3 linked regions of the Homo sapiens genome follow. The protein of the gene in region 3 purifies or fractionates together with the protein of the main gene of each other region. This does not show direct contact. Each region holds a gene or a part of one and is shown on either strand. Other genes may lie near its edges.

What was found.
Region 1: the proteins of AKAP7 (region 3) and PRKACA purify together in Homo sapiens (affinity purification with mass spectrometry; 4 studies listed by BioGRID and IntAct, with this or other methods). This does not show direct contact.
Region 2: the proteins of AKAP7 (region 3) and PRKACB purify together in Homo sapiens (affinity purification with mass spectrometry; 5 studies listed by BioGRID and IntAct, with this or other methods). This does not show direct contact.

Annotation. Positions count from the first base shown.
Region 1 is NC_000019.10:14,091,075-14,093,800, reverse strand, and holds the end of PRKACA (cAMP-dependent protein kinase catalytic subunit alpha), read left to right. Parts: intron 1-8; coding exon 9-173; intron 174-563; coding exon 564-689; 3' UTR 690-2,113; downstream 2,114-2,726.
Region 2 is NC_000001.11:84,231,133-84,234,883, forward strand, and holds part of PRKACB (cAMP-dependent protein kinase catalytic subunit beta), read left to right. Parts: intron 1-3,751. UniProt on the Homo sapiens protein: Mediates cAMP-dependent signaling triggered by receptor binding to GPCRs.
Region 3 is NC_000006.12:131,133,504-131,137,254, forward strand, and holds the start of AKAP7 (A-kinase anchoring protein 7), read left to right. Parts: upstream 1-1,963; 5' UTR 1,964-1,990; coding exon of another isoform or gene 1,991-2,260; coding exon 2,261-2,279; intron 2,280-2,366; exon of another isoform or gene 2,367-3,339; intron 3,340-3,648; exon of another isoform or gene 3,649-3,751. UniProt on the Homo sapiens protein: Probably targets cAMP-dependent protein kinase (PKA) to the cellular membrane or cytoskeletal structures.

The sequences.
Region 1 (2,726 bases), on a different chromosome or scaffold from region 3:
TCCTCCAGGTGCGCTTCCCTTCCCACTTCAGCTCTGACTTGAAGGACCTGCTGCGGAACCTCCTGCAGGTAGATCTCACCAAGCGCTTTGGGAACCTCAAGAATGGGGTCAACGATATCAAGAACCACAAGTGGTTTGCCACAACTGACTGGATTGCCATCTACCAGAGGAAGGTGGGCCTCCCCTCCTTAAGCCTGCTGAGGGTTTGGGAGCAGGCCAAGAGTCAGGGAGGACAGCCAATAGAGAAATAGAGAAGAGAACACAGGTTCAGGAGCAACCTAGAGTAGAGAGCTTAGAGCAGTGGGGTCTAGAAATGGGATTCTGGGGTCATTTGGCCATTCCATGACCTTGTGCAACAGATGCCTCTCTCTGGGAAGTAATTTCCCCTTTGATGAGTTGCTACATTAAGAGTTTCGGGCTGTTAAGAGGAATCCATAACCTAATGGTAAGCACAGGCCTGAGTCAGAGTAAATATCTCTTGAATGTTAGGCCATTCGCATTTATTGTTGTAATAATGATTATGTTGAATGCTGAGGTCTGGGTGATTCTTGATCCCTCTCCAGGTGGAAGCTCCCTTCATACCAAAGTTTAAAGGCCCTGGGGATACGAGTAACTTTGACGACTATGAGGAAGAAGAAATCCGGGTCTCCATCAATGAGAAGTGTGGCAAGGAGTTTTCTGAGTTTTAGGGGCATGCCTGTGCCCCCATGGGTTTTCTTTTTTCTTTTTTCTTTTTTTTGGTCGGGGGGGTGGGAGGGTTGGATTGAACAGCCAGAGGGCCCCAGAGTTCCTTGCATCTAATTTCACCCCCACCCCACCCTCCAGGGTTAGGGGGAGCAGGAAGCCCAGATAATCAGAGGGACAGAAACACCAGCTGCTCCCCCTCATCCCCTTCACCCTCCTGCCCCCTCTCCCACTTTTCCCTTCCTCTTTCCCCACAGCCCCCCAGCCCCTCAGCCCTCCCAGCCCACTTCTGCCTGTTTTAAACGAGTTTCTCAACTCCAGTCAGACCAGGTCTTGCTGGTGTATCCAGGGACAGGGTATGGAAAGAGGGGCTCACGCTTAACTCCAGCCCCCACCCACACCCCCATCCCACCCAACCACAGGCCCCACTTGCTAAGGGCAAATGAACGAAGCGCCAACCTTCCTTTCGGAGTAATCCTGCCTGGGAAGGAGAGATTTTTAGTGACATGTTCAGTGGGTTGCTTGCTAGAATTTTTTTAAAAAAACAACAATTTAAAATCTTATTTAAGTTCCACCAGTGCCTCCCTCCCTCCTTCCTCTACTCCCACCCCTCCCATGTCCCCCCATTCCTCAAATCCATTTTAAAGAGAAGCAGACTGACTTTGGAAAGGGAGGCGCTGGGGTTTGAACCTCCCCGCTGCTAATCTCCCCTGGGCCCCTCCCCGGGGAATCCTCTCTGCCAATCCTGCGAGGGTCTAGGCCCCTTTAGGAAGCCTCCGCTCTCTTTTTCCCCAACAGACCTGTCTTCACCCTTGGGCTTTGAAAGCCAGACAAAGCAGCTGCCCCTCTCCCTGCCAAAGAGGAGTCATCCCCCAAAAAGACAGAGGGGGAGCCCCAAGCCCAAGTCTTTCCTCCCAGCAGCGTTTCCCCCCAACTCCTTAATTTTATTCTCCGCTAGATTTTAACGTCCAGCCTTCCCTCAGCTGAGTGGGGAGGGCATCCCTGCAAAAGGGAACAGAAGAGGCCAAGTCCCCCCAAGCCACGGCCCGGGGTTCAAGGCTAGAGCTGCTGGGGAGGGGCTGCCTGTTTTACTCACCCACCAGCTTCCGCCTCCCCCATCCTGGGCGCCCCTCCTCCAGCTTAGCTGTCAGCTGTCCATCACCTCTCCCCCACTTTCTCATTTGTGCTTTTTTCTCTCGTAATAGAAAAGTGGGGAGCCGCTGGGGAGCCACCCCATTCATCCCCGTATTTCCCCCTCTCATAACTTCTCCCCATCCCAGGAGGAGTTCTCAGGCCTGGGGTGGGGCCCCGGGTGGGTGCGGGGGCGATTCAACCTGTGTGCTGCGAAGGACGAGACTTCCTCTTGAACAGTGTGCTGTTGTAAACATATTTGAAAACTATTACCAATAAAGTTTTGTTTAAAAAAAAAGTGTCGCTGGTGTTCTCGACTTCGATCACCCACCCACACACCCCCAGGGGGTTGGAAAGGGAATTTCGGACCCCAGCGTGCAGGCCGATCAGGTCCTGGCTTGAAGTCCTTGTAACCAGGGTTTAGCTGAAATTCCGGCACTCCTTCGGCCCCGCAGGAGAAACGAGCGTCAAACTGCCCTTTGACCCCAGATTCGGGGTCCCCAAATCTGCGGCGCGCCCCCTCGGCGTCCAGCCCGGGACCGAGAGGGCGCTCTAGGGAGGCGCTGGGGCTGGCGCGCCAGGAGGCCGAGCGGCGGCGGGGGCGGCCCTGGCAGGGGGAGTAGAAGGGGGAGAGGGTGCGCGCCCCCCTTCCCGCATCCTCAGCGCCGGGCCAGGCGCGCCTGAGGGACGCGGGGGCGGCGGCAGCAGGAGGGTCCCCGCAGCACCCTGCGAGCGCGGCAGCCCCGGCCCGCGGGCGGCGAGTTCCCGGTAAGTGCGGTCCCGAGAGCGGAGCGCGCTGGAGAGGCGTGGAGAGGGGGGCTGGGCGCCGGGGACGTCTGGGTCCCGCGCCCAATGGCTGGAGGGCGGCCGAGCGCCGCCCGCCCGCCCTGCCCGCCCCCTCTCCACTCCCC
Region 2 (3,751 bases), on a different chromosome or scaffold from region 3:
GCGTGTTGAATTTTGTCAAAGGCCTTTTCTGCATCTATTGAGATAATCATGTGGTTTTTTCTTTGGTTCTGTTTATATGCTGGATTACATTTATTGATTTCCATATATTGAACCAGCCTTGCATCCCAGGGATGAAGCCCACTTGATCATGGTGGATAAGCTTTTGGATGTGCTGCTGGATTTGGTTTGCCAGTATTTTATTGAGGATTTTTGCATCAATGTTCATCAAGGATATTGGACTAAAATTCTCTTTTTTGGTTGTGTCTCTGCCTGGCTTTGGTATCAGGATGATGCTGGCCTCATAAAATGAGTTAGGGAGGATTCCCTCTTTTTCTATTGATTGGAATAGTTTCAGAAGGAATGGTACCAATTCATCCTTGTACCTCTGGTAGAATTCGGCTGTGAATCCATCTGGTCCTGGACTCTTTTTGGTTGGTAAGCTATTGATTATTGCCACAATTTCAGATCCTGTTATTGGTCTATTCAGAGATTCAACTTCTTCCTGGTTTAGTCTTCAGAGAGTGTATGTGTCGAGGAATTTATCCATTTCTTCTAGATTTTCTAGTTTATTTGCGTAGAGGTGTTTGTAGTATTCTCTGATGGTAGTTTGTATTTCTGTGGGATTGGTGGTGATATCCCCTTTATCATTTTTTATTGCGTCTATTTGATTCTTCTCTCTTTTTTCTTTATTAGTCTTGCTAGCAGTCTATCAATTTTGTTGATCCTTTCAAAAAACCAGCTCCTGGATTCATTAATTTTTTGAAGGGTTTTTTGTGTCTCTATTTCCTTCAGTTCTGCTCTGATTTTAGTTATTTCTTGCCTTCTGCTAGCTTTTGAATGTGTTTGCTCTTGCTTTTCTAGTTCTTTTAATTGTGATGTTAGGGTGTCAATTTTGGATCTTTCCTGCTTTCTCTTGTGGGCATTTAGTGCCATAAATTTCCCTCCACACACTGCTTTGAATGTGTCCCAGAGATTCTGGTATGTTGTGTGTTTGCTCTCGTTGGTTTCAAAGAACATCTTTATTTCTGCCTTCATTTCGTTATGTACCCAGTAGTCATTCAGGAGCAGGTTGTTCAGTTTCCATGTAGTTGAGCGGTTTTGAGTGAGATTCTTAATCCTGAGTTCTAGTTTGATTGCACTGTGGTCTGAGAGATAGTTTGTTATAATTTCTGTTCTTTTACATTTGCTGAGGAGAGCTTTACTTCCAACTCTGTGGTCAATATTGGAATAGGTGTGGTGTGGTGCTGAAAAAAATGTATATTCTGTTGATTTGGGGTAGAGAGTTCTGTAGATGTCTATTAGGTCCACTTGGTGCAGAGCTGAGTTCAATTCCTTGTTGACTTTCTGTCTCATTGATCTGTCTAATGTTGACAGTGGGGTGTTAAAGTCTCCCATTATTAATGTGTGGGAGTCTAAGTCTTTTTGTAGGTCACTCAGGACTTGCTTTATGAATCTGGGTGCTCCTGTATTGGGTGCATATATATTTAGGATAGTTAGCTCTTCTTGTTGAATTGATCCCTTTACCATTATGTAATGGCCTTTTTTGACTCTTTTGATCTTTGTTGGTTTAAAGTCTGTTTTATCAGAGACTAGGATTGCAACCCCTGCCTTTTTTTGTTTTCCATTTGCTTGGTAGATCTTCCTCCATCCTTTTATTTTGAGCCTATGTGTGTCTCTGCATGTGAGATGGGTTTCCTGAATACAGCATACTGATGGGTCTTGACTCTTTATCCAATTTGCCAAGTCTGTGTCTTTTAATTGGAGAATTTAGTCCATTTACATTTAAAGTTAATATTGTTATGTGTGAATTTGATCCTGTCATTATGATGTTAGCTTGTTATTTTGCTCGTTAGTTGATGCAGTTTCTTCATAGTCTCGATGGTCTTTACATTTTGGCATGATTTTGCAGCAACTGGTACCGGTTGTTCCTTTCCATGTTTAGCACTTCCTTCAGGAGCTCTTTTAGGGCAGGCCTGGTGGTGACAAAGTCTCTCAACATTTGCTTGTCTGTAAAGTATTTTATTTCTCCTTCACTTATGAAGCTTAGTTTGGCTGGATATGAGATTCTGGGTTGAAAATTCTCTTCTTTAAGAATGTTGAATATTGGCACCCACTCTCTTCTGGCTTGTAGAGTTTCTGCCGAGAGATCCGCTGTTAGTCTGATGGGCTTCCCTTTGAGGGTAACCTGACCTTTCTCTCTGGCTGCCCTTAACATTTTTTCCTTCATTTCAACTTTGGTGAATCTGACAATTATGTGTCTTGGAGTTGCTCTTCTCGAGGAGTATCTTTGTGGCGTTCTCTGTATTTCCTGAATCTGAATGTTGGCCTGCCTTGCTAGATTGGGGAAGTTCTCCTGGATAATATCCTGCAGAGTGTTTTCCAACTTGGTTCCATTCTCCCCATCACTTTCAGGTACACCAATCAGACGTAGATTTGGTCTTTTCACATAGTCCCATATTTCTTGGAGGCTTTGCTCGTTTCTTTTTATTCTTTTTTCTCTAAACTTCCCTTCTCGCTTCATTTCATTCATTTCATCTTCCATTGCTGATACCCTTTCTTCCAGTTGATCGCATCGGCTCCTGAGGCTTCTGCATTCTTCACGTAGTTCTCGAGCCTTGGTTTTCAGCTCCATCAGCTCCTTTAAGCACTTCTCTGTATTGGTTATTCTAGTTATACATTCTTCTAAATTTTTTTCAAAGTTTTCAACTTCTTTGCCTTTGGTTTGAATGTCCTCCCGTAGCTCAGAGTAATTTGATCGTCTGAAGCCTTCTTCTCTCAGCTCGTCAAAGTCATTCTCCGTCCAGCTTTGTTCCGTTGCTGGTGAGGAACTGCGTTCCTTTGGAGGAGGAGAGGCGCTCTGCTTTTTAGAGTTTCCAGTTTTTCTGCTCTGTTTTTTCCCCATCTTTGTGGTTTTATCTACTTTTGGTCTTTGATGATGGTGATGTACAGATGGGTTTTTGGTGTGGATGTCCTTTCTGTTTGTTAGTTTTCCTTCTAACAGACAGGACCCTCAGCTGCAGGTCTGTTGGAGTACCTGGCCCTATGAGGTGTCAGTGTTCCCCTGCTGGGGGGTGCCTCCCAGTTAGGCTGCTCAGGGGTCAGGGGTCAGGGACCCACTTGAGGAAGCAGTCTGCCCGTTCTCAGATCTCCAGCTGTGTGCTGGGAGAACCACTGCTCTCTTCAAAGCTGTCAGACAGGGACATTTAAGTCTGCAGAGGTTACTGCTGTCTTTTTGTTTGTCTGTGCCCTGCCCCCAGAGGTGGAGCTTACAGAGGCAGGCAGGCCTCCTTGAGCTGTGGTGGGCTCCACCCAGTTCGAGCTTCCCAGCTGCTTTGTTTACCTAAGCAAGCCTGGGCAATGGCGGGCGCCCCTCCCCCAGCCTCACTGCCACCTTGCAGTTTGATCTCAGACTGCTGTGCTAGCAATCAGCGAGACTCCGTGGGCGTAGGTCCCTCCAAGCCAGGTGCAGGATATAATCTCCTGGTGCGCCGTTTTTTAAGCCCGTGGGAAAAGCGCAGTATTCGGGTGGGAGTGACCTGATTTTCCAGGTGCCGTCTGTCACCCCTTTCTTTGACTAGGAAAGGGAACTCCCTGACCCCTTGCGCTTCCTGAGTGAGGCAATGCCTTGCCCTGCTTCGGCTCGCACACGGTGCGTGCACCCACTGACCTGCGCCCACTGTCTGGCACTCCCTAGTGAGATGAACCTGGTACCTCAGATGGAAATGCAGAAATCACCCGTCTTCTGTGTCCC
Region 3 (3,751 bases):
AATTAAAATGTTCCTCCACATGGTAGGTGTTGATAAGACTCTGTATTCATAATACTGGTGGTGAAAAATATGTGGCATTTGGGCTGTTACCTCTGCTTAGGTAAGAGAATGAAACTTCCATATATCTCTTGGTACACACCACAGGGGAAGAAAAATCTTTCTCCTGCCCATTTAGTTCACTAGGTTGGACTGTGTAAATTAAATTGACAAAAGACAGATTAAGACGAGAAAAGGATTATTACACATGCACATAGATGCTTCACAGGAAAGAACTAAAAGCCCGAAGAGGCAGTTAGAACTGGGGGCTTCTATACCATTTTAACGATGATAAAGTGTGGAGAGGCTAGACAAAGGAAAAGGGGGCTTAGCCTTTTTGCAGTATGGGAAGGTTACTAGAAAATGTATGGGTTTGTTATGCAGGTAAGACTCATTCTCCTCTTTCTGGTATGGGTGAGTGGTAAAGCTTTGTTGTTTGTTTGTTTGTTTGAGACAGGATCTGGCTCTGTTGTCCACACTGGAGTGCAATGGCATCATCTCAGCTCACTGCAACCTCCACCTCCTGGGCTCCAGCGATCCTCCCACCTCAGCCTCTGGAGTAGCTGGGATTACAGGCATGGGTCACCACGTCTGGTTAATTTTTGTATTTTTGGTAGAGACAGGGTTTTGCTATGTTGCCCAGGCTGGTTTCAAACTCCTGGACTCAAGTGATCCACTCGCCTTGACCTCCCAAAGTGTTGGGGTTACAAGCGTGAGCCACTGGGCCCGGCCTGGTAAAGCTTTAAAAATAAAAATTTATGTCACCTTTACGAAGGGAAATTTATGTCCTGCTTTTAGGCAGAAAGGGGGAGGTCAAAGTTGTTCCTGAGTCTTTAGTTTCTGAACTGTTTTAAGCTCAAGAATAATCCTTATGCTGAAGTGGCATATTTGGGGTGGCATATTCTCATCCTCTTCACTATGAATGTGGACCACATTTTTGCAGCTTTTATTTCCGCAGTTACTTATGTTTCTTTCTCTGCTATTATATGATCAGCTCCATAAGTAAAAGACCTGTCTTACCTGCACATCCTCAGCACAGAGCTCAAGCATTAAATAAATATTAGGGGAACTGGTTGTACTTTCCTACCAGCCCATAAATGGGCATCAGAAACTCAACGTGTTAGAATTATTTGAAAATCAGAGTAACTAGTTTGCCGACTTCTAGTGTGCAGCCTTTACGCCAGCTGTTGTGGCTGTGTAGGGGTCTTCTTTTCTTCCATCCCTATTCTACGATGCATTCAACATAAGCGAAGTGTTATTATTCACGAAAGGCGCTAATTTGTGGACGGATGCACCTAATGTTCTTAACCCCTGGTTTCTTCGCACTAAAACCAATCCCAATAGCATTCCGTTTCAAGTGAAAGGTTTTTATTTTTTTAAACTAAGTAAATTTCTTTTTCTCCCAATTTACTCACTGCAGTACCTTATACTACAAGAACCAGCAACTGGTTTCCTCTTAATGTCTAAACATAACATCATTGTTAAAAATTAGAGACTTTGTCACAATTTGCAGTTTTTAAAAGTAAGGTAAATAAAGTATCTCATTATACAGAAGTACAAGGTCTCGTTCTTGTACATTTCGCTCTTCCCAAATATTCTGCAATCAGAACCCTGATTGCAAAACTAAGCACATGGATTCTCAAAAGACACCAGGCCAGAGAATTCTTTCATCCTAGTCCCAATCTCGCCCTTGAAAGCGTGGGAGGGGCAAGGCTGCGCCACGGGAAATAAATGAGGGCTGCCAAAGGCCGTCGGAGGCCGCGGGGCTCGGCAGGCAGGCGAAGACCCAGCGTCGCATTGCAGAGTCGAGACGACCTGGGCTGCCGTGACGCCGCAGTCGCCGGCCCTAGTTTCCCCCGCCCTGCCCGAGCGCGTCCGCGCCTCTCGCCCGAATCCGGGTACCACCGGCGACTCGGGTCGGCCCCTTCTGGCTTGTTCCGGCGTCCGGCCTGGCATGCGGGTGCTGCGGCTGCTGCGGCTGCCGCCGCCGCTGCTGCCGCTGCCGCGGGGGCTGCGGCTTGGGAAGCTCCGCGCTTCCGCAGGCCTGGCCTCCGCCGCCCGGGCCCCCGCAGCCTGTCGCTGGACCCCGCGCCGGCCCAGCGCACCGCCCTCAGGCCCCGAGCCCCGCCCTGGCCTCCGCCTCGGCCTCGCCTCCAGCCCCGGGACGCGGCCCGCCACCGCCGCTGCCGCCAGCCCAGACGCGCCGCCCGCATGCGCCGCGACCATGGAGCGCCCCGAAGCGGGTGAGACCGGGCTGTCCAGCGGGCCGGGGCGGGGGCGACAGGAGCCGCGGGGGCCTGGGCCTGCTCTGCGCTCGAACTTTGGGAGGGCCTGACCCGCGCCGGCCCTTCTCCGAGTCTCCCTCCTTCCCAAAAGGACTCAGGGTAGCACCGAGAAGCCCGGTGCAACCGGGGTGTACATCAGTGCTGCCTGTAGCGAAGCGTTTTAATGCACGCATTGTGGGTCCGACAGGAGGCGGGGGTATGAGCCCATCCCCGAGTTTCACTTTTCTTTCTCCCTTTCTCATCCTGTGACCCTTTGCACAAAGTTCATGCCAGTACACATTCCTTCCGACGGTGTTGATGTGGGTAAATGTAAACAAAACCTAGTAAAATTTCGATTTTATCTTATATCACAAATATTAAGCACCCGAACCACCATACTGTCTCATTTAGGATTTTCTGCCAGGTTTGGACATGACCGCTTTTAAAACTGGCGCCAAGTCTACACTAGCGCCCGGAATGAATTTCCAGTTTAGGTCAGCGTTTGTTGTGAACTGAACTTTGTGATAGAGCGAGTTAGGGGTGGACTTTCGGTAAAAGGGTCCGCAAACCAATTAGAGAAAAGGTGCTCCTCTGCAAGAGTTTCATAGGATAAACTCATAGAAGAGTATAAAAAGCATAAAAACGTTAAAGTGTACTATATAAATAGCAGTTAATCGTGTGAATATGTTGACAATTGTTAAGTGAATGATGACAGTGAGTTTTTGCATTTAGGAAATGCATGGGAATGGAAATTGTTAAGGAGAAAAGAGCCATACTCCAGTTCCTTGTTTAAGTGCCGTGGCTTTGCAATTCAGGATCCTGTTAGCATATCTGTATATTTTCCTTACTCATAAAGTTTAAGATGTTTGTGGAGGTTACTTCCTCCTTTCATCCATTTTCGGACACTATTAACTTGTTTTGTCCATTTCTCCCTAATAATTTGGATTTTACTTTTGTTCCCTTTTTATGAGGAGGAAAGGAAAGCCTGGAGGTCAAGTAACTTGTTGATTTCTACGCAGCTGTCAACATTTACTAACGTGTAAGATGCTAATACTATTTTTAGTAGCTAAGCCAGGACTAGAATGGATGCCCTTAGCCCTTTCCAGTTGTTCTTAGGAATAAACTTATTTATGTATGTACTTATGTATGTATGTATATATGTATATATGTATTTAGAGACAGGGTCTTCCTCTGTTGGCTCAGGTGGAAGTGCACTGGCGCGATCATGGCTCACTGCAGCCTAGATCGGCTGGGATCATGCCAACCTCCTGTTTCAGCCTCCCCAAGTAGCGGGGACTACAGGTCTGTGCCAACATGCCTGACTAATTTTTGTATTTTTTTTTTTGTAGAGACGGGGTCTTGCCATGTCACCAAGGCTTGAACTCCTGGGCTCAAGCAGTCCTTCTCTGAGTGCTGGGATTACACGTGTGAGCCAACTTGCTCAGCTGGGA